2 separate regions of the Homo sapiens genome follow, and region 1 is linked to region 2. The links come from fine-mapping of genetic effects on gene expression. A gene starts in region 2. The other region holds a variant in brackets. All regions are shown on one strand. Distances are from middle to middle.

Region 1 (15,620 bases), 130 kb before region 2:
CTTTACTCTAACACTTTGGTTTTCTTGTGTCTCTGATGTTTGGGTACCTCTCTGTTTTGTTCTTCCTTGGAGACTAACTATCTCCTCCGTGGAGAGAACTCCAGAATCTTTACTTTTATTCACTTATTCATCCATCCATGCAACAAGCAGTGTGCATGTGGAATGTTCAAAGCACTATGCTAGCTGTTCTGAGGGATTTAAAGAGAAATGAGACCTAACTCCTCAAGGAGCTAGAAATCTCCATTTCTGCCTTTCGTCTCAAGTCTGTTGTCTCTTTCCATCCTCTTAGACATTGAAAATTGTCCCATCATAACCTCAGATTCTATATATTTCGCTCTAAACCTGTCTTCTTCCTCTAAAACTAACTTCCTTTCATGGCTAATGGATTTCTACCAGTAGCACAATTATTTTAATCATGAAGACATAAAAACTCAAATCATCTTTGATGATTCTGTCTGTAATTTGTAATCAAAATTCTATTGACTTTGCTGTTGTGATATTTCTTACTTTGCACCTTCCTCTTAGCCTCTGTTGAGGTCTGCCTTGGTATCTATATGAAATGTTCTTTCCGTTTATCTAAGACCCATCCATTTTTTAAGACTCAGCTGAAATCTGCCTCCTGCCACCCAATAAACGCTTCAGCCAATAGGAAGTCCCCTTCAGAACACAGAGTAATACTCAGTTGTATGTGTTTGTGTACGCCCATGTGCATGGAATTATTTGCTCAGCACTATGCTGAGGACTTGATGTGCGTTATCTCATTTCTTCTTCATGACAACTCTATTAGGTAGGTTCTGTCATTCACATTTCACAGATGAGGACAAAGCAACTTGTCCAAAGTCACAAACAAAGGCCGAAATTAGAAGCGAGTTCTATATAGACTCCAAAGCCCATACTTTAAAACAGCATGCCATATTGCCCTATGACCTTGAGGTATTATTTATTCATGATCTTATTTAGCTTTCACATACCTTATTTCCACAAAAAAAAAGTCATAAATTCTAGTAATCAGAACTGAGTACTTTAATACATAACATGCACAATCCTATACAAAAAGTAAACATTTGATTGAATATTGAAAGAATAGAAGGATACATATGAATAAAATATAGCAATTCAGGCATCAGAGTCCCATAATCACTCAAAGTAGCCATAGTTGTGTGCTGGGTATTCTTTAGCAAAAGAAAAGTGGCTGTCAAAGGATCTCATTTTGCCAACATCTTTGTCATCTCCCCTCTGATATTTATACCTCCCGTAATTAACCGGAATTGCATCTACTATTGCTAGAATGGTAGAAAAAGGGAGTTTCGGCTTTCTATGTGTATAATTCATTCTTATCGCCTATTCACCAGCCTCTGAGACACAGCCAGTGCCCATAATGCTATAGATGACACCTCGTTGAGTGCAGTTCCTATCTTCATAGAGCTCCACCGTCTCCTGTCAGTCACTCTCCTTTTCATTCCCATAACCACCACCTAATGTCAAATCCCACAGACCTCAAATTAGCCACCTTCTAGCTACTGTCAGCTATAACACATCTTACAATTGCTGCCAACAATCACTGAAGACTTCTTGAGGCAGTAGAGCATAGTGGTTAAGAGTATGGATTCTGGAACCAGGCTGCTATGTGATGCTGGGCAAGAAATTTTACCTCTATCCCTCAGTTACCACATCTGCAAAGTGGGGTTAATAATTGTTCCAACCTCATAGGGTTGTTGTAGGGATTAAATGACTGTATATTTAGTGAAGCTTAGAACAAGGTCTGGCTGTTGTCGGAATTTCCTAGGTCTAATAGGAGTAATAATATTGTTATTGTTATAATCATTAGCAGCATCACTGTCGGCCATGGGTGCCCAGGAAAATTGTCAAGTTGTTAAATGGAACAGAAGGTCTGAGTAAGAATAGATTTTAGAGGGAAAAAAATTACTTCTGTTTCTAACATGTCGAGTTTGAAATGTCACCAGGACATCGAATAAGGTATTCTAGCAGATGGTAGAAGTAGAAATCTAGAGTTCAAAGAAGAGGTTATAGCAGAGACTTTTAAATTTGAGAATTACCCATTAGAGATACAAAGTTATTACAGAGGCAGAGGAAGTTGAGTATGAGAGGAAGAGGGCCGAGGACAGTTCTGTGGAGAATGCATCTATTTAAAGGGCAACGGGAGGATGAAAAACAGAACATATACTGAAAAGGAGTCTTCAGAGTGATAGGAGGGGAATCCGAAGGGTCCCAAGCATGGAAACCACATGTTTTAAGAAATATATCGCTAGAATGAAGTATGTCAAATGGTCATGGAAGATGAGCACTAAAGAAAAAGTCATGAACGCTGGTGATTGGATTAGTTGTGGTCGTGGTCCTCGGAGTTTCCCTAGTGTGGTGAGAGCAGAACGCAGAAGGCAAATGAGAGGCAGCTGGTGTGAACTCTGGTTTGAGAGCTGGTTTGATTCTGAAGCGGGGAAAGAGAGGAAAGTGGGAATTAAGGAGTTGGAAGGACCTTGGGGCTCATTTTAGTATTAATACTAGAGAGGTCACTCACTCTTTAAAAGGAATCAGTGGGGAAGGAGGAATCCAGAGCTAGAAGAGGGGAGGATCAGGGTCTCAGAAGTGATGGCAGTGGCAGAAGGAAGGGGTCAGGGAAGAAGCTCCCTGGGGATCCTCCCGGTGAGGAGCACAGGTGTTGAAGAAGCACACATGGCCTCAGCTCTCTCAGGAAAAACAAAGAAATGGTCACCTGCTATGAGTGTGAATGTTAGGATGGGAGGCTCTGGAGAAAGTGGGAGGACTGGGAGGACTGTGACAGCCAGTCAGCATGAGCCAAATGGACAAATGCCCAAGTCACTGTCAAGGCCTCCCTGGGGCTGCATGACACACCAGGAATGTGTGGTCGCCAAAACGGGCAGTCCACAGCTTGGCAGCCCAGAATGAGTTGTATAAAAACAGGATAATACAGAAAGAACATAAAGACAGGTCCAACAACATCCCTATAGGTTGCAAGGGAAGGAGACAAGTGAAGCCAGAACCGAATGGATGGGCTGGGAGAACGGTGAGGTGGTAGGCAAGGGAAAGGTCAAAATCAGTGGGATGGGGAAAGGTGTAAATGGCAGGCCTAGGTAATTGTGTTACTGTGGACCTTTACATCTGTCTGTCTTGTTTGTTTATACCAGAAATTTCTGCCTGGATAATAAAAAAAGGATATGCTTTTAAAGTTAAACGTACTTTGGCACTTCTGAAAAGACTGATCGGACTGTTTAGTAAAGAAAGCTGAATTTTGATCCTCCATCTTCTTTAACTTTTTACCTATGGCTTTGGATGAAGTCTGCTTTAAAAGAAGAAGAAAAAGAAGATGTCAAAGAGTTGTAAATTGCAGAATGACATCTACCATGTGGTTCTTCTGCCACTCTCACTAATATTGCTTAGCATTCTGACTTTTAAAAATAACGTGGTTATTGAGATTTAAAACTCTGTGGATGCAGAATACATTTTTGAAAATAAGACTTTTTACTATGCATAGCCAATTATAGTCCACTGAGGAAATGATGTATTTTTCCAATACATTTTTATTATGTACTTAACTGACGGACCTTCCCAGCTTCTTCACAGACATTCCACTCCATCAGCCACTGTTCATAATGTGCTTCTTAGGAATCTACTTAAATTTGTATTTACCTGTGAGGCTGGATTGGCTCCAGAGGACACAGTCCTTTTTTCCTTGAGTAAATTATACATATTTTAGAAAACTATCTAAAAACATATTTATCTCATATGGAATTCTGGCCTCAAGGGTAATTAAGACCCGTTTTTAAAAAGCATAGCCAATACACTTTAACTCTCTCAGGTAAATAAGATATATTTTATAATCATCTAAGAGCGATTTCTCTCTTCCTTTCCTTCTCTTTCCCTTCTCCTGTAACTATCACCATGCCTCTTTTAAACACATATTTTGTAATTATTTCAATGTTTCCTCAGATACTGCTTTTCTCCTGGGGGCCAGTGCACCAATTACGCTTTCCTTCCACCCCATGCACTGGCAACTGAACACAGAAGAGGCATAGTCTACCTGAAGTATAATTTCTAGAAGAGAAGTTACTTTGTGAAGATCCAGGCCCTTCTGCATATGCATGTTCATTGGTCCTCCCATTTTAAAAAGGTAGTTTCAATACTGGGTAGTTTAGAGCTCAGAGTAGAGTTTGTTTGCTAAGAGAGGCATAATTGAATGAACACTATATTTTGAGATTAATTTTAAAATGAAAATGATACCTGAAAGTAAATGTGCAATAGCATCACTGTAATTATTACAGAAGCAACTACACACCACAATCATTATTACAACAAAGGAAATAAATGAAATTTCCTAGCAATAACATGATTTCTCATTTAGCTGTTTTGCACTTCTAAAACAACCTTTACACGATGAATTTTTTGCATCCAATGAATAATGAAAATGCGCAACCCATTCTTCCTTTTCCCTATAAGAATACTGCAGTATTCCCCAGAGGCGGAAGGCAATAGGAAGCTATATGGCAATAATTTTTAGGGGGTTTGTGCAAACTGCATGACTAGAGAACTAAAAACTTAGGAGAAAAGGTGTTTCCTAGAAATTGCAAGATAAGTGTAGGGAGTAGAATAATGCCTGGTTTGTTTCTTCTCTCTCCATCTCTGAGGTCCAATCCTTTACATTTCATAAGACTGACTTCTGCAGTTGCTGTGGATAAATGTCACTGCCATATGCACTCCTCCACTGTGGGGTCAAAGTTTCTACTGGTCTCTTCTCAGTCAGGGTAATTAGGACCTGAGAGTTCATCCTGCTCTACTTCAAGCCACAGTGAACCCCTGAACAAGATCCTCTGGGTTTATGGTTTATATAGCCCTCCTAATCAAAATATTTGCAGCTCTTGCTAAACTTCAAAACTTGGATGAGGGCTTTCTGTTGTGTTAGTGGCCTAAATCCCAAACAATTTTCCTGCCCAGATTAGTCTTAGAATTCAGATGACCATAAATCCCAGTTACAGAGTACAGTCCCTGTTTACACCTGTTATCCTGCTATAATCAATAGCTTTCACTTTCAGAGGTGTCCCTGTTTGGATGATAAGTACTATGTGATCTCTACTTACATGAAGTCTTTGGACTGAATTTTGTTTCCTTGGATGTTTTTGTGTTTGTGCTTTTTATGGCTATGTGCTTTTTATGTCTATGAAGGGTTATATTTTCTTTTTTCATACTCAGGTAAGTTTGAGTAGATTTTTTTAAAAAAACATCCTAGTTTTCAAAATAACCTAGGAACCAAGTTAAAACACAAATTCTTTAGCCCCACTTCAAGAGATTCTGATTCAATAAGGTGGAACCTAGGAATTGTTTTAACTGGGTGGTCCTTAGGCACCTGAGTTTGAGAATTTTAGCTTCAAGCACTTGCAAACTCAGCCTACCTATTTGACCCTTAACCTCTGAACTTAGGTATGTACAAGGGGCATACTTATTTCAGGATACTCTGGCGAACATTTGGTCAAGCTGATCAGCTGCAGTTTGGCTGAGTAATACTGAAAGGGTTGAACAACTAGTATTTCCCAAGCTAGCTCAGAGGGCTCATCCTCACCACTTTGTCATTGTTAGAACTCAGGTAACCACTTTGGATAAAATCCAGTTACAAGCGCTCTTCCCTGACTCTCCTGCCAAACACGCAGACACTGTTTCAGCCGGGTGAGATAATTCACCTACCTGAGGAAGCTATTTTGAATATATATATATATATATATATATATATATATATATATTTTATTATTTAAGTTTTAGGGTACATGTGCACAATGTGCAGGTTAGTTACATATGTATACATGTGCCATGCTGGTGTGCTGCACCCATTAACTCGTCATTTAGCATTAGGTATATCTCCCAATGCTAACCCTCCCCCCTCCCTGCACCCCACAACAGTCCCCGGAGTGTGATGTTCCCCTTCCTGTGTCCATGTGTTCTCATTGTTCAATTCCCATCTATGAGTGAGAACATGCGGTGTTTGGTTTTTTGTAAGGCGACTGGTAAGTATGGATCGAGAATCGTGGCTTATTTCATCTGGAACGTTGATCCTAGAACAAAAGACAAGTCATTAAGTGATTCAGCTCCCCCTTCTCTGTTCCTTCATGCAGCATTGTGCGCAATCAAGGACACATGCCATTCAACAACGGCTCTGCTTTGCTGACACTCTCAAAGTCATTCTTTCACAGCTGTCAGGGCTCTGTACGCTTTATGCATTCCTTCTGGGCACTTGATCCTCACATTCCACCAGGCAGGAGAAGCAAGCACTTGAACAAAAGGAAGCAAGGACTCAGCTTCCCGGAGGTCAGGGCTATAGCCCTCGCACATATTAATAAACTGCCATTTACATTCTCCAGGTCACTTTTATTAGGCTTTCAAGGTCACCTGCCTTTGAGAAGTCTTAGAATTTTTTTTCTTCATGCTCATCCTCACCCCCTGTCTCCACCCCACCTTGCCCCTTCTCTCATACACTATCTCATATGCCTGGGCTCTGTAGAAGGAAATTAAACTGTGATTTGGTATGCTAAATTACCTGAACTAAAAACTATAATTTGCAATATTATTAAGTCATCACTGTCATGGATTTCAGTTTCTTTCTGTTTAAACCCCTAACTCATAGCATCATTTTTTCTATTACTAAAGGAGAAAAGGAGAGAAAGGCCCTTGGTCGCTCTACTGACTTATCACTCTGTCAGGAAAGTTATATTATGCTTCTGAGTGATTACTTCAGCCCGGCCAGTATTTAGTTAAAACCTCCACCTTGCATTCAAGGTGTGCTTGTTCTTGTTTAAGGGCATATAGGAGAGATATGGGGACTGTTGGGTCAGTTGCAGGGATTAGAAAGTCCACAATTCTCTTTCCAAAGGAATCCTGCCCAGGTTTCGGTTCTGGATGACGGGGACATTTCCTTTTTGTATGCTACTCCCAGTCCTTTTGGAAAGACTTGGATATTTCCTGCTAGCTGGCAGCATCGATGGCCTTCACAATCACCAGATGCTTAATCCCCTTTTGCCATATTCTCTGTGTTGCTGCTTTGAATTAGGCATCAGTATTTTCTGTAAGAATAGACCAGTCAAGATGACTAGGTTTTGCTGCAGTAATAACTGCAAGTCTTGGGGGCTTAAGACCACAATGCTTTTTTCTTGCTTATACTATCTGTCGATCCAGGATGGGCAGAGGGGACTTC[A/T]TGCCACATCTTTGTTGTCACCCTCACGTTAAGCCCTAAGCTCAAATGTTTTGCTGTTTGAAATACTGCCAGTCACCATGTTGGAAAGAGAAGCACTGGCTCTTAAAGCTTCCTCCTAGAAGAGACATAGACCATTTCTGTTTGCCTTTCATTGGTCAGAGCAAGTCACTTTTAGCAGATAAGGAAGTGCAGTCCTACTACAAGCCCAAAAAGAGATGGCCAGAATATTTGTATATGACCTTAATGATTATACAATTGTCTAGTAGGTTTATGATTCTAAAATAATGAAAGGAGAGAATGAGAATAAAAACCAAGTTTCATTTGCCCCCCAGATATGTAATTTGAACCATTGAGAAAATAATGCTTCCCCCTGTACGTCAATAACATGACAAAAGCAAAGTGCAGACTTTGGTAACTAGGGGAACAGCAATGATGAGATATGATCACGGGTTCTTGTGGCGGGTAGCTCCCTCTGCGACTGCCTAGGCATAAACAATAGCATAAGGTGGGATGTACTCTGTAATATGTCAGCACTGATCTAGGGAAAGGGAACAAGGGACTGGAATATGCTATTTTCTGTCTTTTTCTCATTCAGCAAGTTCTTCTCTCTCTTTCTCATTCAGCAAGTTTTCTACTAAAGGACGTAGATTTTACCAAGTGATTGTACAGACTGAAGTAATAGTTTTTCGGGCTCTGGAGTCAGACTTCTTTTAGTTTAGATCCCAGCTTCATTTGGTACCTAAATGATCTTGGGTAAACTGCTTAACCTCTCTGTAGCCTCATTGCTTCCATGTGTGGAGTGGATATAGTAACAGTGCTTACCTTACAGCATTGATAAAATGTATTTATAGCTCTTGGCCCAAGGCTTTAGAGATGTTCTCTAGCAGGAGAATCACTGAATTTCATTATTCACTTAATACCAATAACTATAGATTCTGAAATTTGGGAAAAGTAGCTCATTTTCCACTGCCTTGATATTTTTTTTTTTTTTTTTTTTTTTTTTTTTTTTGAGATGAAGTCTTGCTCTGTCACCCAGGCTGGAGTGCAGTGGCACGATGTCAGCTTACTGCAACCTCCACTTCCCAGGTTCAAGTGATTCTCCTGCCTCAGCCTCCTGAGCAGCTGGGATTACAGGCACATGCCAGCATGCCCGGCTAATTTTTGTATTTTTAGTAGAGACAGGGTTTCGCCATGTTGGCCAGGCTGGTTTTGAACTACTGACCTCAGGTGATCTGTCTACCTTGGCCCCCCAAAGTGCTGGGATTACAGACGTGAGCCACCACAGCTGGCCGATAAGATGTTTTAAATATTTCTTTCATTCTTCAAAAGTAGGTTCCAGGGCACAGGGTTGCATATATCTTAAGTGCCAGGGGATACCACCTAATAAGACACTATTGCAGGTGTTTTTTGCTGAGTCATCCACAGCAAAGGGTACATCTGTCTGTGCAAAGGAAATACTTTTTTCTGTAGTCTTCTTGATGATAGATTGGCCTAGCAAAAATTTTACAGGCTGGTGAGGATTCTGAACTTTCAAGGTTTGTCTAGTTATTTAAATATGATGCATATAACCTAATAAGACATAGATGCTCAGAATCAAAACATAACTTCAGATCATCACATAAGTCAAGGACAAGAATGCTCTGGGGCCACAATTACAGCAGAAGCATCAAAAAACAAAACAAAACTGTATTTCTTGACCTTCTAGTGTCAGCTCATCTCCCAGGCTTCTAATTGCATTGAGCGCTATTGCAGACGGTGGCCAGTCTGTGTAGTCAGTCCACCGTGTCCAGTCAAGGTAATATCCTCTTGGATAGTAAAATATATGAGGTTCAATTTGCTTCTCTTTTTCTACTTAGTTTGAAGACTCAACAGAGAGCTGGAAATGTAGTGCTACAGTGCTTCTGGCTCAAGAAAGTCTTTTTGGAATCTATTAGTATCATCAGTGTCCTGAGACAATCGAGAAACTTAGAGTGCTGATAACTATGCTCAAAAAGTAAATGTGCAAGGCAATGTTAACTATATTTTCCATTACATTCCAAGTCTATTAATAGAAAGAACAAAGATCAGAGAATAAAAACTTGCCCCACAGAAATTTTATTTCCAGTCAAAGATTTGAATCTAAATTTTTCAGAGCATGGGACTAAAGAGATCAGGCAATCATGGGTTTTGTCCTGTAGCCACAAAGGATGTATGTACCTATTTAACCATGTCAAAATGTTTCCTGGTAAACTAGGGGGCCAGGTTAGAAAGTTGGCAGGGAGCCATGTACTCAGAACTACTCTGAGAAGCCTTAACGGACTGCTGTCTCGACAATGTTTCAGTAGTTCCACAGTCGTCACCCTGTGCTCTTTAGCAAGCTCTGAGTCCTAACTGTACATGCAACTGGCATGTGTTTATCTAGTCTGGAAAATGCTTTCCTATAAAAGATGAAGAAACTGAGTTTAAAAGTCCACATACCTTTGGAAGACACAGAAGATGGAATAAAACCCACATCAAATTACAGAAACCTAATCATCTGGGTCAAACAGTATAATTTGTCAATAGTATCAAAACTTCCTTATGGTTTCTTTCTTGAGACAGAGTTGCACTCTTGTCACCCAGTCTGGAGTGCAATGGCACAATCTCAGCTCGCTGCAACCTCTGACTCCTGGGTTCAAGCAATTATTTTGCCTCAGCCTCCCAAGTACCTGGGATTACAGGCGCGCGCCACTACGCCGAGCAATTTTTATACTTTTAGTAGAGACGGGATTTCACCACATTGGCCAGACTGGTCTCAAACTCCTGACCTCAGATGATCCACCTGTCTTGGCCTCCCAAGGTGCTGGGTTTACAGGCGTGAGCCACCATGCCTGGCCTCCTTATAATTTCAGAAGCTCAATTTATTACAGAATAATTACCCCCATCCAGTTAGTATAATAGTTAAAGACCACTAACCCACCAATCAGAAGACCTCGATTCTAGATCCGCCTCTGTTGCAATCTGGACTTTACCTCTCTTAGCTTTATATATGAAAAGGATTATTTGGGCTAGAACAGAAGTCAGTAAACTACAGTCCACAGGCCAAATTCAGCCAACTGTAAATAAAGTTTTATTGGCATACAACTACACCCATTTGTTTTCTTACTATCTACGGCTGCTTTCATGCTTTCAATGAAGGGGTGAATAGCGGCAACACAGATTATGTGGCCTGGAACACCTAAAATATTTACTATTTAGCCCTTTACAGAAAAAAAAATTACTTCTGAATTGGAAGCTATCCAAGAGATAGCTCCTCTGTCTCCTCATCTGCAAAATGGGAACAAAAATAATACTTGCCTCATAAGATTATGAGGATTAAATGATGGTTCTTAATACAGTTTCTACATAGGAAATGATAGGTAACATATAATTATATAACTGTTAAAATGGTGAGCATGACCATTGTCAGAATTGTAGCAATCAGTTTTCCATTACAGAAAAAATACTTGCTGCTGTCGTGCTATGCTACGATATTACATGGAACAGAAAAGATGGCAGTTCACACACAGAACTCCTGGACAACTGAAATAACAAAATCCAGTACAGGCAGAAGATATGGATAAAGGCAAACTGTATCTCCAGCCTAAAAAAAAAGCTGGAAACCTACATTATCTAATTATCAACCTGATACTTGAGCTAGACTTTGAAGGCTAAGTCAGATTCAAACAAGCCAAAAGAGGAACTTAAAGGTATTCAAGGTCAAGGGGAAGTGGAATTCCCAAGAGGCCTTGAGAGGGCAGTTTGTAGAAGAATTTAGCCACAGCAAAATATACTGACGCAAGAGTTGTGAGTGACAGGGTAAGAATGGTTGGTTGGGACCAGGTTGTGGAGTTTTGAGCACTGGAGCAAGGAATGTAGACAGTTTCTTATGTGCATTGAGATCCACTGAAGTTTTCTGAACCTGAAAAATATTAGTATTTCTAGAATAATTTACCTATCTTTATGACATGGAATGCATGAGAAGACAAAGAAACAGGAAATTAAGTTCATTTTAAAGAGATGAATTTCAGTTTTGTCTGCACTATTACATTATAAAAATGTCTTATATTTGTTGTTTATATTTGTTCTTATTCCCCTTTGTAAAATTTCACTTAAGCCTACTTTACCTACTGTATTTAAAATGGAGTAGTAGCTAATGCACAAATATACAAATGAAGTCATGGTTTTTATTCTTTCTGTAACTACTTAAAGAGCATCATTTTACATATATCTCAAAACATTCATAATATTAGCACTTATTAGGGGTTTACCGTGTAAAAGATAGGAGAAAATGAGTCAAACATGAGTAACGCCTTCAATCTGGGAGGGGAAATAAATGACATAAAAGAATTAATAGAGGGCTGTGAGTCATTTGAGTATTCAGAAAGGAGTAGGAGGCAGAAAGGGCTCCAGTCAAGTGTGGCGGATATTGTCTACCCAGTGTTTATTTCCCCATTTTCCCTTGCTAATGGAAGACGGACTTTGTACATAATGACAAAGATTCTGCCTAAATCCTCAGTTTTCTAAGGTTTCATTGTATCTATGAATGACTCTTTAATATAGTTCTGGCCAAAGAGCTGGAAAAGGATGTGTTCCGGGGGTTTCTGGGAAAGTTTTTTACTTTCTTGATAACATAGGACAGATATTGCTGACTCCATCCTTCCCCCTCTCATCTACCTTTGAATGTGAATGCAATGCTTACAGCTGGGGCAGCCATATTAACACCATGAGGCAATAAACATAAGGATGAAGAAATGGAAAGACAGAAAGTTCTTAGGGCCCAAATGATCACTTTGAACATCTGGTACAATATCAATAACCTGACTTCTGAACTTCCTATTGCATGAGGAAAATTAACTCTACTACCTAATCTACTACTAGAATATTCTGTTGCTTGCAGCCGAGCACTTTGTGCTGCTTCTCTTCTGTAAATATGTTTTTCTTCAATGAGTACTTATTTCTTCAACACATTTTTCTTCAAGTTTCTATTAAGCACCTATGTGTCAGGCTCAGTGTTAGGCACTAGAAATAAATATAATGATGCCTCCCTTAATTTTTCTCTGCAAGAATACCTGATGATTTTGAAGATACTCAAATGGAGAACAGTAAAATGACTCTTTCCTCTCCACCTTTCTTTCATATCGCCTAACTGCCCTCTACCCCTACCAGCTCATCTGCAAAATGGGAATAAGAGACAAAAAGAGACAAAGTGAAAATGAGGCTAAAAGAAGTCAAATATATGTATTACACATGCCTCCTCCCCATTCTCCCAGAAGAAATGGAAACAAGTGGACACTCTGTAAGAGAACAGGAAAGCCAGTGCAGCTCCTTTATCCCTCCTCACATCTTGCACCAAAGAGCACACTCTCCGAGCTGTGGAGCAGCTATGGAATCTCCACCCAGAACATTATAATTGACCCATTTTGGGAAAAGGTTTGTTCACTTGTGGGCATACTGGTTATAGACAGAAAGGCATTATTAAGCAAGTCCTCAAACCTGAAGCCCTAAACTTCCCCTTAGACCTTGCTGCACTCAGGCGTATCCAGTAAGAAAACTATGGTCATGAGAAGTGGCTGGGAAACATTCTTACTCTCTGTGGGTGGGAGCATGTCATAGGACTACTCTGGAGTCTTCCTTCTCTTGTTGTTTCAACCATCTTAAAAGCAATGGTTATCTGACAAGAAATGCTGTGTTAAGGCTGTGCCCTTGGACTTGTCCAAGTTTGCACAGCACAGGCAGGGCAGGATTTGAATCCAATGTTAAAGCCCCTTACTGTATTTTGGGAAATGAGCTGAACACAGTTTTAGTCTTGGTATCAAATCTCGGGATGTAATCCAGTCAAGAACTACCTATTGGTGGCTGGGCGCGGTGGCTCACACCTGTAATCCCAGCACGTTGGAGGCCGAGACGGGCGGATCACCTGAGGTTGGGAGTTCGAGATCAGCCTGACCAACATGGAGAAGCCCCATCTCTACTAAAAATACAAAATACAAAAATTAGCCCAGTGTGGTGGCACACGCCTGTAATCCCAGCTACTCAGAAGGCTGAGGCGTGAGAATCCCTTGAACCTGGGAGACAGAGGTTGCAGTGAGCTGAGATGGCACCACTGCACTCCAGCCTGGGTGACAGAGCAAGACTCTGTCTCAAAAAAAAAAATGTTAGTGAAACCAAAACTGAGATCCATTTTCAGAACTTGACCAAGTTTGCATAACGCCAGCAGGGCAGGATTTGAATCCAGTGCTAAATCCCCTGTCCATCTAATTAGTCCGTTATCCATGCTTCTTGCTCCTTGCTCCCTGTGCATTTTAGAAGTACAGAGGCTGCTAACTGGCAGCTAAGGGGCTGAATTCAGCTGTGGACAGGATTTTAAAACAGTCTTCAAAAATCAGGAGAAGCTGAGCTCAACGGCTCACGCCTATAATCCGAGCACTTTGGGAGGCCAAGGTGGGTGGATCACTTCGGATCAGCCCAGGAGTTAGAGACCAGCCTGGGCAACATGGCAAAACAAACAAACAAACAAACAATAACATTAGCTGGGTGTGGTGGCGTGCATCTGTAGTTCCAGCTACTCCGGAAGCTGAGGTGGGAGGATCACTTGAGCCCGGGAAGCAGAGGTTGCAGTGAGCTGTGATGGTGCCACTGCACTCCACCTTGGGTGATGGAGCCACATCCTGACTCAGAAAAAGAACAAGAAAAATCAAGAGCTCTCATGGAAAAATGTGGATTTTGGCCGGGCACAGTGGCTCACACCTGTAATCCTAGCACTTTGGGAGACCGAGGTGGACAGATCACAAGGTCAGAAGATCGAGACCATCCTGGCTAACATGGTGAAACCCCGTCTCTACTAAAAATATACAAAAAATTAGCCGGGTGTGGTGGCAGGTGCCTGTAGTCCCAGCTACTCGGGAGGCTGAGGCAGGAGAATGGCGTGAACCCGGAAGGCGGAGCTTGCAGTGAGCCGAGATCGCGCCACTGCACTCGAGCCTGGGCGACAGAGGGAGACTCCATCTCAAAAAAAAAAAAAAAAAAAAAAAATGTGGATTTTGAGCTTCTCTTGAAAGACGGAAAGTTCTGGCAACATTGGGCCTGGATTCCAACATGGCCATGATGACTGGGATGCCCTCTCCATGGGCCCCATGCTCTCACCCAGCCTGGCCTGTGCAGGCGTTTCCGTTTGTGTCGGATAGCTCCTTGTTGGCACCTGTCATAAAGCATTTTTCACTTTCTCTCTTATCTCACCTTCGTGAGGCTGCAAGCTTCCTTTTTTATTTCTGTCTTCTCTGCTGTGTTTTTCCTCTCTCTAGCATGGAGTCAGTGCTTGGCATATCATAGACTCTCTTTTTTTTTTTTTATTGAATTGAAATATAAGCCTGCAGATTTGCTAATAAGTTCAACATTTAATACTGCTCCAAATACAGCTTTTAGGTTAATTTTAGTATAGCCAATTCTTGCTTCGTCCCATTTATAGAAAAATAGGAGTGAGAAGCCAGTGAATAATCCCCCAGATTTTTTTTTTTTTTTTTTTACATTGGGTTACATCAGTGTTTTCATTAGATTCTTATTAGATGTTCGTACTTGATTGCTCTGTTTTGGTAGATTAGGAAATCACATTTTATTTTCCCTATGAAGTCTTCCGTGCTTCTAGGTTAGTCATCTCCCCACCTTTCTTATGCCTCTATTGTAGAATTTATCAGATAGTATCCTAAGGATTTGTTTACCAACCTGTTCCCTTACAGGCAGGGACTGTGCATTATTCATTTTCGTTATCTCCCCCAGCCTAGCAGATAATAGGTTTTCAATACAGTTTCAATGAGTGAATTATTGCCTGAAGTAGGTACACAATAGATAGAAGATATATATTGAAATTTCTTTAGTCTGACATGAAGGAACATAGACTTTACTTCCTCAAGTTAATCAGTGGTTTTGATAGTTTAATATAGTACTTTTCTTTGTATTTCTTTTCAGTTAAAAATGTAATGTTAATCCTTAAACAGCAAAGAGATATTCTGTCAAATTAAAAAAAAAAAGAAAAAGGCTTTAGAAGTTTCTATGCATTCTTCTTTGGTGTTGGTTTTCACAGGCAGTAATTGGGATCATTAGCTCATGATTCTCTTTCCAAGGCAAGCTCTAAGACCCAGGGAGCACTTGTGGGTTTGACCTAAGGCTGTTAGGCAGCCACAGTTCCTGCCTCAGCTCTGACTTTGTTAACCAAAACAATGATAGCTATGGTACTTCATTTACTTAGTATCACTAAGCCCAAGATGGAAAAATCAGTGGACACACTTAAAACTGATAAAAAGATATACATTCTTGGCCAGGCATGGCAGTGCACCCCTGTAATCCCAGTACTTTGGGAGGCTGAGGCAGGAGGATCACTTATACCCGAGAGTTTGAGACCAGCCTGGGCAAC
Region 2 (15,620 bases):
AAATCTAAGTTTATTTTCATAGGGACCTTAATCCATATTTTAATGTAGTTCACAAAAAGTACTTTGTGTTTAGGGAGTACATAACTCACAGAATTTCTCATCAGAATACAATTCTGTTTGTTTACATGAAGTTGAACTGGAGAACTAGACAGCGTATTAGAGAAAAATCTCAATCTTTCCACAGACAAGCAAAGCAGGGACTAGAGAAATTAGGGCAATTTTTCATTTTTCTAACAATTTTGTCACCATAACTGTGGGTTATTAATATTTAACTAATGTCATAGCTAGAATAACAACAGTAGCTGTTTTCAATAATTAAAGAAACAATGACTTCTTTCAATACAATTACAAGTAAACTTTAAAAACTGTGACGATTTGAGCCCAGGACTAATAGCACGCAACTGGTGAAGTGAGAAATGTTCTTCACAGAGAGTCTATTTTTAAAGACATGTAAATGTAATATATATACATTTATTTAAAGGTTGAGATTCATTTAAGAGTAAAAATTGAAAGAAAGTCTCAATATAATCTAAAGCATTACTCAGAAGTGAACTTTTATTTCCTTGCTTATAGTTTTGAAGAGGAGAAGTTCAGCTAGGGTAACTGCACTCTTGGTTTTTCTCTACCCTTCATCACTCCCCATTTCGTTGGAGAAGCTCCTTGAGACAACTAAATGGATGTGCTTTGCTCAGTGTATCTGCATATTTGCAAAGAAGGTCCATATCAATGCTTTCTGACACATCCTAAGGAGCTGCCAGTAGTAGTCCTGCACTGCCTGTGTGGGTAAGTCAATTCGGAGGTTATGTACTAAGAAGCACACTATGGTTCCATATCAAAACTATCTCCTTCTTGCAGAAGGATGCAGAAAAAACAAACCAAAACAAAAACCATCATCTCCTTCAAAACAATGTTTACTCAATAAAAAAGCTGGTATTTCAACCTCAATTTATCTGATTTTTGCATTTCTCAACTGGCTGCAAAAGGGGCAAAGAGGTACAATGTATTTTAACCCTCTAAAACTCAGATACAGAACATAAGAAAGTGCCTTAAAGATAAGGCTCTCCAATGAAATAAATGCTTTTTAAAAAAAGTTACAGGGATTTGGTCTAGTCAGTATAAAATTTTTAAGTGCACATAATAGGGATTGGTCTCTTATGAAAAATTAATCATATACACGAAACACTATCATCAGTAAATAAATCAAGCTTCTTGTATAAGGAACCCTTTACTGTATTAATCATCCAATTACTTTTTTTTTTTTTTTTTTGAGATGGAGTCTCACTCTGTCGCCCAGGCTGGAGTGCAATGGCGTGATCTCGGCTCAGTGCAAGTTCCGCCTCCTGGGTTCACGCCATTCTCCGGCCTCAGCCTCCTGAGTAGCTGGGACTACAGGCGCCCGCCACCAGGCCTGGCTTTTTTTTTGTATTTTTAGTAGAGACAGGGTTTCACCGTGTTAGCCAGGACGGTCTCGATCTCCTGACCTTGTGATCTGCCTGCCTCGGCCTCCCAAGTGCTGGGATTACAAGCGTGAGCCACCGCGCCCGACCTAATCATACAATTTTTTAAAACCATTTACATGGGTTAATTAATGTAGCTCTTGAATGTTAATAACCATTAACAATATGGACCAGCAATACATAAAAACTATGAAGAATATGCTGTTGTTAGAAATAATAATGATTTAGTCTGATGCAGAACACATATGAACACACACAAAAAAGCCACATTTGGATTATAAAACATATGTCCACAACTAGGGAGAAATGCTTTCATTATTTCTAGGGAATTATTTCTTTAAATCCTTTAAGCAAATTTCCTTTAGAAAATGATAGGTCTTGGCCGGGCATGGTGGCTCACGCCTGTAATCCCAGCACTTTGGTAAGCCAAGGTGGGTGGATCACCTGAGGTCAGGAGTTCGAGACCAGCCTGGCCAACATGGTGAAACCCCATCTCTACTAAAATACAAAAATTAGCCAGGTGTGGTGGCAGGTGCCTGTAATCTCAGCTACTCGGGAGGCTGAGGCAGAAGAATTGCTTGAACCCAGGAGGCGGAGGTTGCAGTGAGCCGAGACCACACCATTGCACTCCAGCCTGGGTGACAGAGCGAGACTCTGTCTCAAAAAATAAATAAATAAATAAAATTAAAAAATAAAAAGAAAATGATAGGTCTTTTTAGAAATGCTGGACAAGTGAAATCCAATATATCTGTGAATATCATCTTGGTATTCAATCAATACTTGTTTTTATCTAATTGGTTTTATCAAAAACCACTGTTATCAGTAGAATACAAGAGTTTTTTATTGTTTAATATTTTTTTTTTTTTTTTTGAGACGGAGTCTCGCTCTGTCGCCCAGGCTGGAGTACAGTGGCACAATCTCAGCTCACTGCAAGCTCCGCCTCCCGGGTTCACGCCATTCTCCTGCCTCAGCCTCCTGAGTAGCTGGGACTACAGGCACCCACCACCAGCCTGGCTAATTTTTTTATTTTTTGTCTTTTTAGTAGAAATGGGGTTTCACTGTGTTATCTAGGATGGTCTCGATCTCCTGACCTTGTGATCCGCCTGCCTCGGCCTCCCAAAGCGCTGGGATTACAGGCATGAGCCACCCACCCAGCCGAGGAATACAAGAGTTTTAAACACATATGCTTTTCCTACTACTTGTATATTTTTAATGTATTTTAGAGTTTCAAGGTCTATTTAATGGCTATTTCAGGAATATTGCCAAAGAAGTCTGGGTGGTTTTAAAAAGTCTAAAATCTTGCCTATTCTAAAAATTGACGTATAAAAACTAATGTTAAATAATCGGAATATACAAAAAATAATAAAAAAATTGTTATAACACTGTTACCCAAAAGTTTCATTTAAAGCTTGTCCTTTAAATTTTATTATTCTGCTTCCTCAGAATTAAACAAGTTATACAGAAATAAACATATACTATGTTGCTGTTTCCAGATCATGTTAATAGCTATTTTACAATTTGATTATTAATAAGGTAACATTTTAATGTATTTTGGTTTCATGTATAAATTATTAAATTATTTGGATTTACTGGAGTTAGTGTGTAAAGCAGTTTTCATCTTAAACCATATGGTCTTTATAATAAAATAAATATGATGGAAATGACCCACTTTGTATATTTAACAGCATTTTCTGTCAAAGCAAGAGCCCATAGTAAAATGAAAATAGGACTAACTGCATAATAGCAGAAATCAGGAAAGCCTTTTAAAGCAATTTATTTCCTTTGAAAATGATTAAATATGAAACTGAAGTTAAACATGCGGAGGAAAGGGAAGTAGGAAACAAAGGTGAAAAAACAGAATGTCCTGATTCAAACATTATCCATAAAATATGGATATGTTTAAAGACAAATCAGAATACAGGACATTCTAGTCACAAATTTATCAGAAAAACTGAGCTACTAGCTAAACTTTAACAGAATCAGGAATCCCAGTGACGGCCCAAAATAACTAGCACAGTTTTGTAACAGTTTTCTAGAATAAAATTATCTACTTGAAACAACAGTTTATAATACATTTAGCAATGCTTTTTTACAGCACATGATATGACAAGTGAATGACCTGTATTACAGGATCTAATTCATGCAGTTACACAGGAAAACTATATATGTAGGAATAGATATAAACATGTATAGATATACTGATTGATTTATTTATAAAATTCATGGTTTGATGGTTCTTTCTGACCCTGCAGGATTAAGAATACAATAAACCTGATATGTTAATGAGGCCAAAAAGAGCACTATAATTGGTTTAACATATATCAATAACCCAGACAATTAAAAATCCTTTAAAGTACAGTCAAGTTTAGTGTAAGTGATATGTCTGAGGTAGGGAGGATCAAGAGCTAACTTCTAGAAGTCTTGCAGCACAAGAAGGAAAGTAAATATACCATAATATAATTGTACCAGTGGTTATTTTTAGAAAAATTATAGATCTTTCTAGAACTAATAGGGGGTGTTCCTTGGAGCATTCATACAGAAGATACTATCTTAACACCAAAAAAAAGGAGGGAAAAAAAAAGCAAAAAAGAGAGCATGACTTCTGACAGTTAAGTTTTATTTTTACTGTCAAAAAAATTAAAATTATATGACATTCTTGGTTATGAGAAAATGTCCTTTTGTAGTAATTATTAAAATCTTATCTATAATTAACAAAAATTAGTTACTTACCTTGAACAATAAAATACAACTAAGGAGACAATGACTATAAACAGAGTTGGCCTTTATGCATAGCAAGCAACTGTCTCTGTGGTATGGAGTTTCCCAAAATATCTCCCACATGGGCCTATTCTTGATGCCTGAAATTCCTTTGTAGTTGGTGCCAGTCCAAAATGCAAAGAAAACTTATAGAACTCTTCATCTTAATTAAGAACACTATTTATTATAAACTAGCTTTTTAGGTTCTTTGAATTCTTTATAATGTAACACATAGCTAGAACATGTTTGAAGAACATGTTGAAAATTGAGCTCAGAGACAAGGAAAGACAGGAATACAGATATGAATACAAAAGTCTGGTTTGAGAGGCAAGATGAAAGAGCAGGGTACAACCCTTGGGAAAAAGCGGAAGGTGCTACAAAAATGAGAGACAGGGATGCATAAATGGGGTTTTGTAAGGAAAATAAGGATAAACTTTTCCCTACTCTACATTATATAGGGCTGGTTTCTTTTATAACCAGCCCTACCCATAAAAGAGAAGTAATCTTAGAAATAAATTGTATGGTATCATTAGCTAAAATAAATATTTAAGACTTAATAAAAAAACTTTGATTTATATATTTATATTTAAGAACTAAAGTTTTCCCCCCAAAATAACCTTTACAGACTTGTCTTTCAATTTTAACATGCACTTATTATAGAAAATTTGAAAAATATTACAAAGTATATAGAAAGATTAAAATCATCTCTAATCCCTTCAGCCTGTAATACCATTGTTAACACTGGGGAGGGATGTTGACTTTTAGGTTTTATCTGAGTGTAAAAAATATATATAACAAAATTTGGATATTACATTGTTTCATATCTTCATTTTTATGTAATGTTATATTGTGATCATTTTTCCATGCCACTTAATACTCTTCATGGTTTTAAGGTCATGATGAAAACTAGTGGTTTCTCAGTGTTTGTTATTTTGGTGAATTCTTTTGATTTTAAACCTACTTTTACAGCAAACTAAGGAAAATTATTTGAAACTCCCCTCATCTGAAAAGCATATACCAAGCACTGAATGCAGTCAAGATTTCTGCTCTGAATTAAACAGTCTGAAAAATTTTCATTTCTCTTATTCAAAACATTTAACTGGGAAAGTAAACAAATAACTGTTAAAACTGAAAAGGGTCCAAGTGTTGGATCTCTGTTTGAACCAATATTGCAAAAGGTAGACACATGTCACAGTACTTATACTGTGTGTATAAAATACTGTTTGACGTTTAACTACAAGTGGCGTTTAGAAATTCTGGCCCCTTTAGGCCTAGGAGCCAAATTAGGCCCTTGGTTTAATATCATTCAGCTGGCCTTCAGACTTTTTTTTTTAAAGACACAGTGTCTATTTCCTGCCCCATCCTTCAAAGATAGGAGAGATGCACACGCACGTGTGTATGTGTGTGTGTGTGTGTGTGTGTATAAATATTAATTATTTGACAGAAGCATCCAGTGATGAGACTTGAGGGCTGTTCTTACTTCCATAGCATTATTTGGGAAAGAAGCAGTAATTAGTCCCTCTGATGACAAATTTAGCGCTAGAAGGAAGAAACAGAACAAGCCCCAAAGTGAATATGGTGAGAAAAAAATGAGAAGCTTAGGAGGACATACGGAGATGTCCAATCTATCCAGTACTGTACAAGGCACAGGCTGGGCAGATGTTAATTTCGGGATGAAGGAGTCCTTAAGGAAGCAAGTTGGTCAAGAGAGGAAAGGTTCAGAAAAAGAATAGGTGGACAGTAGATATCGGTTAGCCATAGAAGTCAAATGTGCTTTGGTATCCTAGGAAATTTGGTTTACTTAGAAGGAAGACCATACGTCTAAGGTTGAACAAGCAGGATTTAATTTTTATGGAGGACCTACTGTGGTTTATACCACAGTATATATGTTAGCTCATTTCCTTCTTCACAACATAAGTGCTATTTATTTTTCTTGTGCAGATGAGGATACTGGGAAATCGGAGTGATTAAGAAACTACTTCAAGGGTACACAGCTAGTAAATGGTAAAAACAAGATGCACATATAAGTCTTTCTGCAAAAACTGTATGCCTTTTCTACAATACCAAGGTGAATTAAATTGCAGAACTTAGTCTAATACTTTTAACCACATTATAATTTCATAAAGCAATCTACTTTCAGCTAACACAAAAGAAAGATACATTAAGTGAAAGAACAGTACAAGGGTGGGAAGACATTTAGAACAGCAATATCACTGAAAAAATTTAAACATAATTATAAATTATTTTCAGTAAAATAACAGTGCCTAAAATTTCAAAGCATTTCTAGAAACAATCTAAAGAGTGCTCTTTTTGTCTAATGAGAAACAAAGTTTTCATTATTTTCCTCTCAAAAGTGATTTGGTATCAATCATTAGAGTGATTCATATGAGAAAGTCTTTCTTCCTCCTCAAAAATAACCAGACAGTGTATTTTAAATTTCAAAGTAATTTTGATAGAAAGTATGAATTAAGTGAACTTAAAAGTTCCAGGGTTATTTTACTTTTAAGCAGTAACATGCCCTTATAAGGTGAAAAACAGTACATAGTACATTATACAGATATATTTTCTATTAGTATATTCAAAGAGTCAACTACAAGAGTAACAGATGATGTCTCATTTTAGTTACATTCTTGAGAGAATTCGTTTTGTTTAGGGTTTATTATTCAAAGCCAACACAGAATTTTTTATTTTACTTTCTAAAAAAGTTTTATTTAAATGGTGAAAACCCTACTTTAGGGTAATATAATCAAGATACATATAATAAGGAAAGTACTAATAAATAAAAGCTATACTATTGGTTTCCCAAAACGCAATGTTTTTGAACATCAGTGGAAAATGTGGATGCTTATTACGAAATCTTCAGTTCTGAATTTTGATTATGAAAAGTAACCACATTTGATCATCTTTTCAATGACTTTCACGTGATCCACGCTTTATGCTTTAGGGAAGCAAGAAAATGTTAGGTTATATAATTCAATTTTACTTAATAACGCATAATAAAATCTGGATTTAGAAAACAGAATAGGGGTTTATTTGCAGTACTGAAGGTTCGCTGTCTTTACAATAAAATTGACTTAAACATTCAAGTATTTGAACATCCTAGTTCCTTTAAATTAAGAATACTCAAGAGTTACCCGGTGGCTCACGCCTGTAATCCCAGCACTTTGGGAGGCCGAGGCGAGCGGAACACTTGAGATCAGGAGTTCGAGACCAGCCTGGACAGCATGGTGAAACCCTGTCTCTATTAAAAATACAAAACATTAGTCGGGCGTGGTGTCGCGCACCTGTAATCCCAGCTACTCGGGAGGCTGAGATAGGAGAATTGCTTGAACCTGGGAGCCGGAGGTTGCAGTGAGCCGATAGGCACTGCACTCCAGCCTGGGCAACAGAGCAAGGCTCTGTCAAAGAAAGAAAGAAAGCAAAGGAAGGAAGGAAAGGTAAGAAAAGAAAATAAAGAAATATACTCTTTAATATAAATTCACCTCATACTAGCAACTTAGGTATTGAACACCTGCAATATACGTAATCAAACTTTCCAATAATGAGAACATCTTGCACATCCACAGGTATTTCCAAGAATTGAGGCACAACGGAATAACATAAACCAAAAAGTCCACAAGGTGCATTGTCTGTCACACATACATTGTAAATTCAGTTCAAATGTTCATTCCCAATATTTCAACAACAACAACAAAATTTTTTAATAAAGTCATTCGTCAAAAAAGAGGCTGGCGCCTCCAAAATCAAGCTCCATCTAACTCCTGAGTCAAATAATGATATGAAGTACCCGAGACGGACCAATTTTTTTTTTGTCAATATTTAATCTGAGGCTTTGGAAGTGGAAGAAATCTTAAAATAGCCACTCAGTCTTGTTTCCAGCCTTCAGGCAGCTGAAATATAAACCCCAGGAACACAGACCCTCCCTTCAGCGAAAAGTGTATGTGTGTATGTTTGTGTTTAAAGGCCTATAGCAGTCAGAGATAGGATCACTGCCGTTTTAGCAGTTTAAAAAAAAAAAATTCTACTAGAGAGGAAAGAATGACACAATTTTCTTCGTCACAGGAAAGTGGGCCTGGGGTATCCCAGCCACCTTCGCAGACGCTAAGTTATGGAAAGCAGCCAAAATTCTGGTATCAGGATGAGGCGTCCCCATGGGTTCTATGGAAACGAGAGACGCGGGGGGCCTAGCGCCTTCCAGGCGGCGGGCCGAGCGGCAGAGCTGCGCAAGCAGAAGCGGGGGAAGTGGCTCAGCCCAGTACTGCAGAGGGGCGCTCGGTGGCAGTCCCCGCAGCGGCACGGGCGAAGCGTCGCGGGGTCTGCAGCTGCAGCCCACCAACTCCGGCGCCGAGCGCGAAGTCGGGAGAGCTGGAACGAACTGCAGCTGGAGAAAGCGCGAGAGCCAGACACCGCTGCCGCTCACCCCAGCCGCTTCCTTCCTAGCCTCACAGCCGGGAGGCAGAAACTTCGGAGGTACCGCCCGGCGAAGAAACATCCCCACAGAGACAGAATACACTGTGTCTTCCTAGCTGAGCCCCTTTACCTTCCCGGTGTCTGGGATGCTTCCTTCGGTGGCAGCGGCGGCAGGGGCGACGACTGCCGCTGCAGCACTCAACTGCTTCACGAATCCGGGCTCTGGGAAACAATTTCCCGCCGCGCGCTAGGCAGCCCCGGAAGCGATAGTACCATTTCCGGGTGGTTGTCAGTGACGCTCCGGAGCCGTCGCCAGGGTGGTAATACCTGGTGCAGAGCTTGAGTCTGGCCAGCGGGTCAGGCTCTTGCTAGATCAGCACCGGAGGTGGAAGACTGGTAAGTGATTTTACTGGGTTTTCTCCTGCGCCTGATATTAATGGCTGGCCGGGGCTCTGTGCAGCATTATGGCCAGCCCGAGAAGTGAGTGGGCGAGGGTGGAACCAGAAGGAGTCCCCATCAAACCCCGTGGCGCTTGACACCCAGTGCAGCTGGAGAAGGCCCTGGGATCCCGGCTTACCGTCTTATCCACTCGCAAAATCTGTCTCCGACTTGGAACTCGACCTCGGGTCACCAAGTGTCCCTGGGCGAGGCCGAAGACACCGTGTACCGTGACTCGGCGTTGTGCCGAGTTTCTCTACCAATGATCAACGAGTTTCCTATCTCCCATTGGCAGCGTTTGGCCACTCTTGATTCCTGAGTACTGTTTCCGTAGTTCTGGGGTGCCGTGCCTGGAAGGCAGGAGGTTGGCTGAAGAAGACATCTTTTACAAACATTTAGGAAGTGAGATGGGGAGGTTCCTTCCTGATTTAGAATTAATTGAAGGTTCCTCCCGCCATTTGAATTGGATGAGAAGAACGGTCTTTGTTTTCATGGCTGAGACATAAGAGAACAAGCTTGTAATTTCATGCTTGGGCATTAGATGCATTTTTGGAAAGCAGTGATCAGTAAGTATGTGTGCTTTCAGAAAGGAATGCTTGCGTTCTGCTCCAGGCTTTGTCGATAATGAAGGATTCAGGAGAATTTTGGATGGAGGTCTGAGGTAGCCAGAATAGTTGTAAAGAGAAATTGCTTCCGACAAAGGGATAATGTGAGGAAAGGTGCTCATTTAAGATTTGAAAGATGTGATGTAGTGAACCTTGGCGACTTCTCTTAAGTAATGCAATTTCTTAGGTAACTAGTTTTCACTTGCCACCTTATATTTAGATAATTACCTCCCCACCAACCCCCGTAAAAGGCAGCTGACTGTTATTTTTTCAAAACAGTCAGTTCCCGAAAGAGTTGTAGGTACTATTGCATTTTTTTTATGGGTATGCTCCTCATACCCATAAAAACATTTTCTTTATCGGAGCATACCGATAAAGAAAAATGCAATATGTTCAATTCAAGGCCCCTGTTAACACCAGGCCAGTGTCTTCTTAACCTTTTGAGAGTAATGCAACAAACCATATTTAGGACAGCACATTGATTTTCTGGCCTTGTTGGTTAATAATTCAACAAACTTATAATCGCCCCATTAATCCCAATCTTGACATTTTGTTGAATCTTGTATTTTTTCTTTATTTCTCCAGTTGAAAGTATTATAAATTACTTCAGGGATATTATGTATTATATCTGTACAGCAACTAGTTTTTAGAGGCAGTGATTTCTCTCTTTGAATTGCTCTTGAATGTAGCCAATCATTAATACTTACCCCAAGTAGATACTGTCTGCCAGGCACTTTACATTTATTATTTTATTTAATGTTTAATAAAAAAAGAAAATCACAAAAATTGTATTATTTCTATTTTGCAAAACATTTTATACTGAGACCCAAAGAGGTTGTGATTTTCCATAAATTATACAATTAAATGGCACAATTAAAATTTGAATCCAGTCTACCTGACTCTAAATTTTGGCTCTTTTTACTGTGCTCTATACCTTTATAAGTAAACATAACAGTATCATTATTTTCACTCCAGGTAAAAATGGATAGATAGTATGTCACATTTAGAAATCAAGTGGATAGCAAAACTTGAGGATAAAAGGGACTTAAGGGATGTGTTCATCACCATAAGGTAATTTTGACATCTAAATAATGCAGTTTCTTTAGTGCCTTTATCCTTGGCCAGTTTTATTATCCTAATTCAAACAAATGCCTATACTGTACATTAGCATAACACTTGGGGCAAATGCAGAAGATCTGGAGACCATCAGCAAGCATATTGGTGACTGAGTCCAGAGTATCAGCTAACTATCTCTTTAGACAGCTTTTCACACACACATTTGTATACATGTATATTTGTGTGTGCATGTGTGTGTGTGTGTGTAGGGAGAAAGAATGAGTAAATGAGCACAAATTCATAAAATTCAACTTTGTAATGATTTATAAGGAATTATTAGCAAAACTGTGCTGTTCCACTCACGTAACCCTCAAACAGATGGGGATTATCACATAGTTTCAGGAATATGCTTTATTAAACCTGCCCATCCCAATACCCAATTCTATATAGAGAAACAGAAATAGCCTAATTTTCAGAGAATTTACAAAAATTTAGTTGAAATGACCAATACTAGAAATGACATAGAAGTTAATTCTAAAGAATATCCTGTTTTACAACTGTATAGGTATAGCTAGCCTGAAATACTAATGTGTATTTGATTACATTGCATTGACTTGTAGGCAGATCCCGTAGGCAGATCTCAGGGATATTTTGCTATCAAATTTCAGTGCTTATGAAGTTTGGGATTATGTCTGTTTTGTTCGTCATCTCAAACCCAGCATCTAGCACTGTGCCTGGCGTGTAATAGAAGCTCAATAAATAAGTCAGGAACCATGACTCATGACTGTAACCCCAATACTTTGGGAGGCTAAGGCAAGAGGATTTGAATCCAGATCCTCTAAATTTTGGCTCTTTTTACTATGTTCTATACTTCCTTTAATAAATAAACATAGGTCACAGTGAACTATGATCATACTACTGCACTCTAGCCTGCACAACAGAGTAAGACCCTGTCTCTAAAAAATAAAAAATAAGCATTTATTGAATGAATGATTCCTTTTTAAAATGTTATTTATCCACCGAGAAGTATTTGTACATTTTTTAAAGGATTTACCACATAAATAAATATTTATTTTTACTCACCTTGCCCCTGAAATACAGTGTCCACTCCACACTCATTCATAAAAGGCAATGTGCTGTCCTGCAAAGAAGACTGGACTGTGAGACAGGAGATGAGAGAATATCTAATATTTTTCTGTGTTTATTCTCTGCTATTCAGTGTTAAATTACTCCTTACAGCACAGTGGGTAAGTATTATTATCCTCCTTTTACAGATGCTAAAACTGAGGCAAAGATAAGCTTTGTAAATTGTCGTAGGTTACGCATAGTCATTAAACACAGCTATGATTTGAATGAAGGGCTCTGATCCCAAAAGCGATAATCTTAACCACTTTGCTAGCCTCCAGTTGAATTTTTAATCCTGGTTCAGCTGCTAAATGTGTGCAAAAGCTCTGGGTATCATGTTTCTCATCTATAACATATAGGAGTTTGATGGATTATATTATCTGTAAGGTCCCTCCTACCTCAAAAATCCTCTGACTTTAGTTGACTCCTAAGTATTATCTGAATATAGCAGTTCTGGAGTGCCAGAAAACCCTCATCAATTTTGATGTGTTTTATGTAAGCTTTTATATGTGTTCACGTCTTCCACATTGGTGGACACACAATCATGTTTTTGCAATAGGAAGAATAGAGTTAAAAAAATCACAGCCATGCTTTTTTTTTTTTTTTTACCAGCTATGACACTAATAAGTCACTGAACCTTTGTGAGCTTATGTTTTCATATGTAAAATGGATCCATAGGATTGCTGTGAGCGTTAAGTGGGTTGACTTATAAAGCCTCAAACGTGTTGTCTGATACACAATTGCTGATAAATAAATATTGATTCTTTTTCTTGCTCAGTCTTGCAAGGATAAAAGATTAGTGGATATGAAAAATGCTTTATAAATTAGACAAAGGTGAAGAATATTTTCACTTACAGTCTACTAGGAGAGAGAAAGTTATATAAACAAATAATTATATGTAGGGCAATTTACATACATCATTGAACACAAAACATGGGAATGCAAAGAAAAGAGATTTTTTTTTTTCCAGGAGGGCAGATGAGGAAAGACCTCATAAAAAAGGTAATATTGAGTTTGTGCCATATAGGATGGAAAGGATTTTGGCAGGGGAACAAGAGGGACAAGTGTTCTACTGGAAGATGCAAAGGTGTCAGAAAACAGAAATAGTACCTAGGTCACTTTGGCTATGTAAGATGGATGAAGGCTGGTAATAAAGCTGAGGTAAAAAGCTGAGTTTAGGACAAGCTGTAGATAACTGTGGGCAAGTTAGAGATGTTAGGCTTTTAACGATAAGCAATAATCTGTGTGTATAACTAGGATGGGGTGGAGGATGGAGTTGGCATTTGTTTTCTTTGTTATGGAAAAACGCCCATTTGTTACAGAAACATTAGAGTGTACAAATATGCCAAAAAGGAAAGAGAAAGGAAGAGTGGCCCATGACCCCACCACTCAGAAATAACTTATGATTTTTCTCTGTATTACAGATTTGCATATATGTGCTTTTAAAATAAAAATGAAATAATACTGTCTATATTGTCTTGTGACCTGCTTTTTTCAATGTGCTATACCATGAATTTTTCCATGTCAATAAATTTGCTTCTATAAAATAATACTTAGGGCCTGTATGCTATTCAATTTTATGAATATGTTATAACTTTTAAACTGACTTCTTTCTGTTAAGTAATAGTACAATAAAGGTTTTTATAGTAAAATATTTAGACATATTCGTATCTATTTTCTTATTACAATTTGTAGAAGGAGAAATGGTCACCCACAGGATATGAACACATATAATACTTACATGTATTGCCATATTAATCAAATTTTTAATTGAAACTTGGTGCAAAATTCATAAGGTATGAAAGGGTATATAATGAGGCGTTAGCCTCCCTCTCACCTCGTTGTCCTCCTGACTCACAGCTAGCCCTTATAGCACCTTGTATGATTAGAAAAGGGCACCCCCTTCTGGAGGATCCATAACTCTTGGATATACACTGTGTAACTGATGCTACTTTTGTAAGGATTGGAAAAAGGCATCTTTTTCTCTATGGCAACAGCCCTGCAGGGACACATGGCTGGGCCAACAAAGTATGGGTTGGATTCAGCCCCTACTGACCTCCCTAGATTGAGTACTTTTATGACAGGTACTGCACCTGGCCTTTTTGACTATTTACTTTCTAAAAGCCAACACTAAAGCCAAATGCAGACTTTGTTAAAATACAGAAGACAAGATTGGCCGGCGCAGTGACTCATGCCTGTAATCCCAGCACTTTGGGAGGCCAATGCGGGCGGATCTCTTGAGACAAGGAGTCCGAGACCAGCCTGACCTACATGGTAAAACCCCATCTCTACCAAAAAAATACAAAAATTAGCTGGGTGTGGTCGTGGGCACATGTAATCCCAGCTACTCCTGGAGTCTAAGGCAAGAGAATCACTTGAACCCCGGGTGGTGGATGTTGCAGTGAACCGAGATCATGTCACCGCACTCCAACCTGGGTGACAGAGTGAAGGATTCTCTCTCAAAAAAAATACAGAGGACAAGGTCAAACTTTAGTGCATCCCTTGAAATACATACATCCCATATAAAAAGTTTTAACAACTATAAAAGTTCAAAACGAGACAATGTCATTTTGACTAATTAGGCAATGCAGTATAATGTAAACAACTGAATTCAGAGAGGACCTGGGGTTGAGCTTAAACTCATGAACATATAATGATAGCCTTGAAGAAGTTACTTAAATTCCCTGAGCCACAATTTCTTCATCTGTAAAGTAATACTATCAACTTTACTAGGATTAAATGTAATACTGTGTGTAGGTACACAAGCATCAGAAAAAAATTATTAAGGTCTCTAGTTTTGTTTTGTTTTTAATAAACTCACTGTTTTAAATTAGGGTCTGTGGCTCTAACTATGAAGTCAAACAGACTTGGATTTGAATCCCAACTCTGTCACAGTTGTGTGACAGTCACAGTTGTGTGACAGTGTGAAAGTTACTTTTCCACTGTTTCATTATTTGTAAAATGGGAATGATGATGTCTTCATAGGCCTTTTGTGAAGATTAAATAAAATAATGCATGTATAGAGTTTAATATGGTGCCTGGTGTAGTAAGGCACTTTATTTGTTCAAATTCTCCAAAAAGCAGATGCCAAGAGGAGGTAAGATGTACAAGATGTTTATTGGGGAGACTGCTTGTGAAGAATGAAGGAGAGTGAGAGTAGGAAAGAAATGCCTTCAGGCCTCAATGCACGTCTGACAGCCTAAAAAGAAGAGAAGGAAGGAAGAAAGAAGAGTTGAGTAAGAATATCAAAGTGCTACACTCTTCTAAGAAAGCTTCAATTAGGCCAGTGCAGAGTCCAAAAGCCAAAGTCATGTATTAGAGGAATCCCATGTTGCCACGGTATTCAATGTTAGGTATTAGTAAAAATGATCAACAGTTGTCATCTGCTAAAACTTACAAATACATTTGAATTTCAAATCTTGAATTTTACTCCCTGTGCCACCCCCTCCTGCCCTCAAGAAAAGTATAATCCCTACTGCCAGACATTGATACTAACATTTGGGTCATATGTTCTTACACTATCTTCTTATATTTTATAATACGGTTTTGTTAGCCAGAACAGTTAGGAATCAAAACATCTGTTCCCAGTAACAGTTTAGAAATGCAAACATTAGCTAAACAACTGATTTTTGGCATCATGTGGTTAAACACACTATTGTCTAAATTTCTAAATTCAGGTAGCCTATAAATATAGTGTAAATCTTTTTTTGTTTGTTTGTTTGTTTCTGAGACAGAGTCTCACTCTGTCACCCAGCCTGGAATACAGTGGTAC

Which allele goes with the higher level. Alleles are on the strand shown, and positions count from the first base shown. SD is a standard deviation of normalised expression in the study named.
With allele A in place of T in region 1, the expression in monocytes of the gene that starts at base 8,851 in region 2 is higher (large effect, 0.84 SD a copy in Fairfax 2014).

The links. PIP is the estimated chance that this variant, and not a neighbour inherited with it, causes the effect. A credible set is the group of variants that fine-mapping cannot tell apart.
Region 1: its variant is the best candidate, but not a certain one, in a credible set for the expression of SLF1 in monocytes (Fairfax 2014, PIP 0.71).

What each region holds. Positions count from the first base shown.
Region 1 is chr5:94,742,257-94,757,876 of GRCh38, reverse strand. All of the region lies in intron 19 of MCTP1 (multiple C2 and transmembrane domain containing 1), which reads left to right. Among named protein-coding and RNA genes, the nearest start is that of SLF1, 130 kb to the right of the region's middle. The variant A/T (reference allele first, on the strand shown) is at 7,214.
Region 2 is chr5:94,611,900-94,627,519 of GRCh38, reverse strand. SLF1 (SMC5/6 complex localization factor 1) reads right to left here and starts at 8,851. Exons shown (of 21, transcript NM_032290.4): 1 at 8,755-8,851. KIAA0825 reads left to right here and starts at 8,916. Exons shown (of 21, transcript NM_001145678.3): 1 at 8,916-9,020. RefSeq lists enhancers at 8,130-8,239, 8,630-8,809, 9,120-9,299, 9,038-9,902.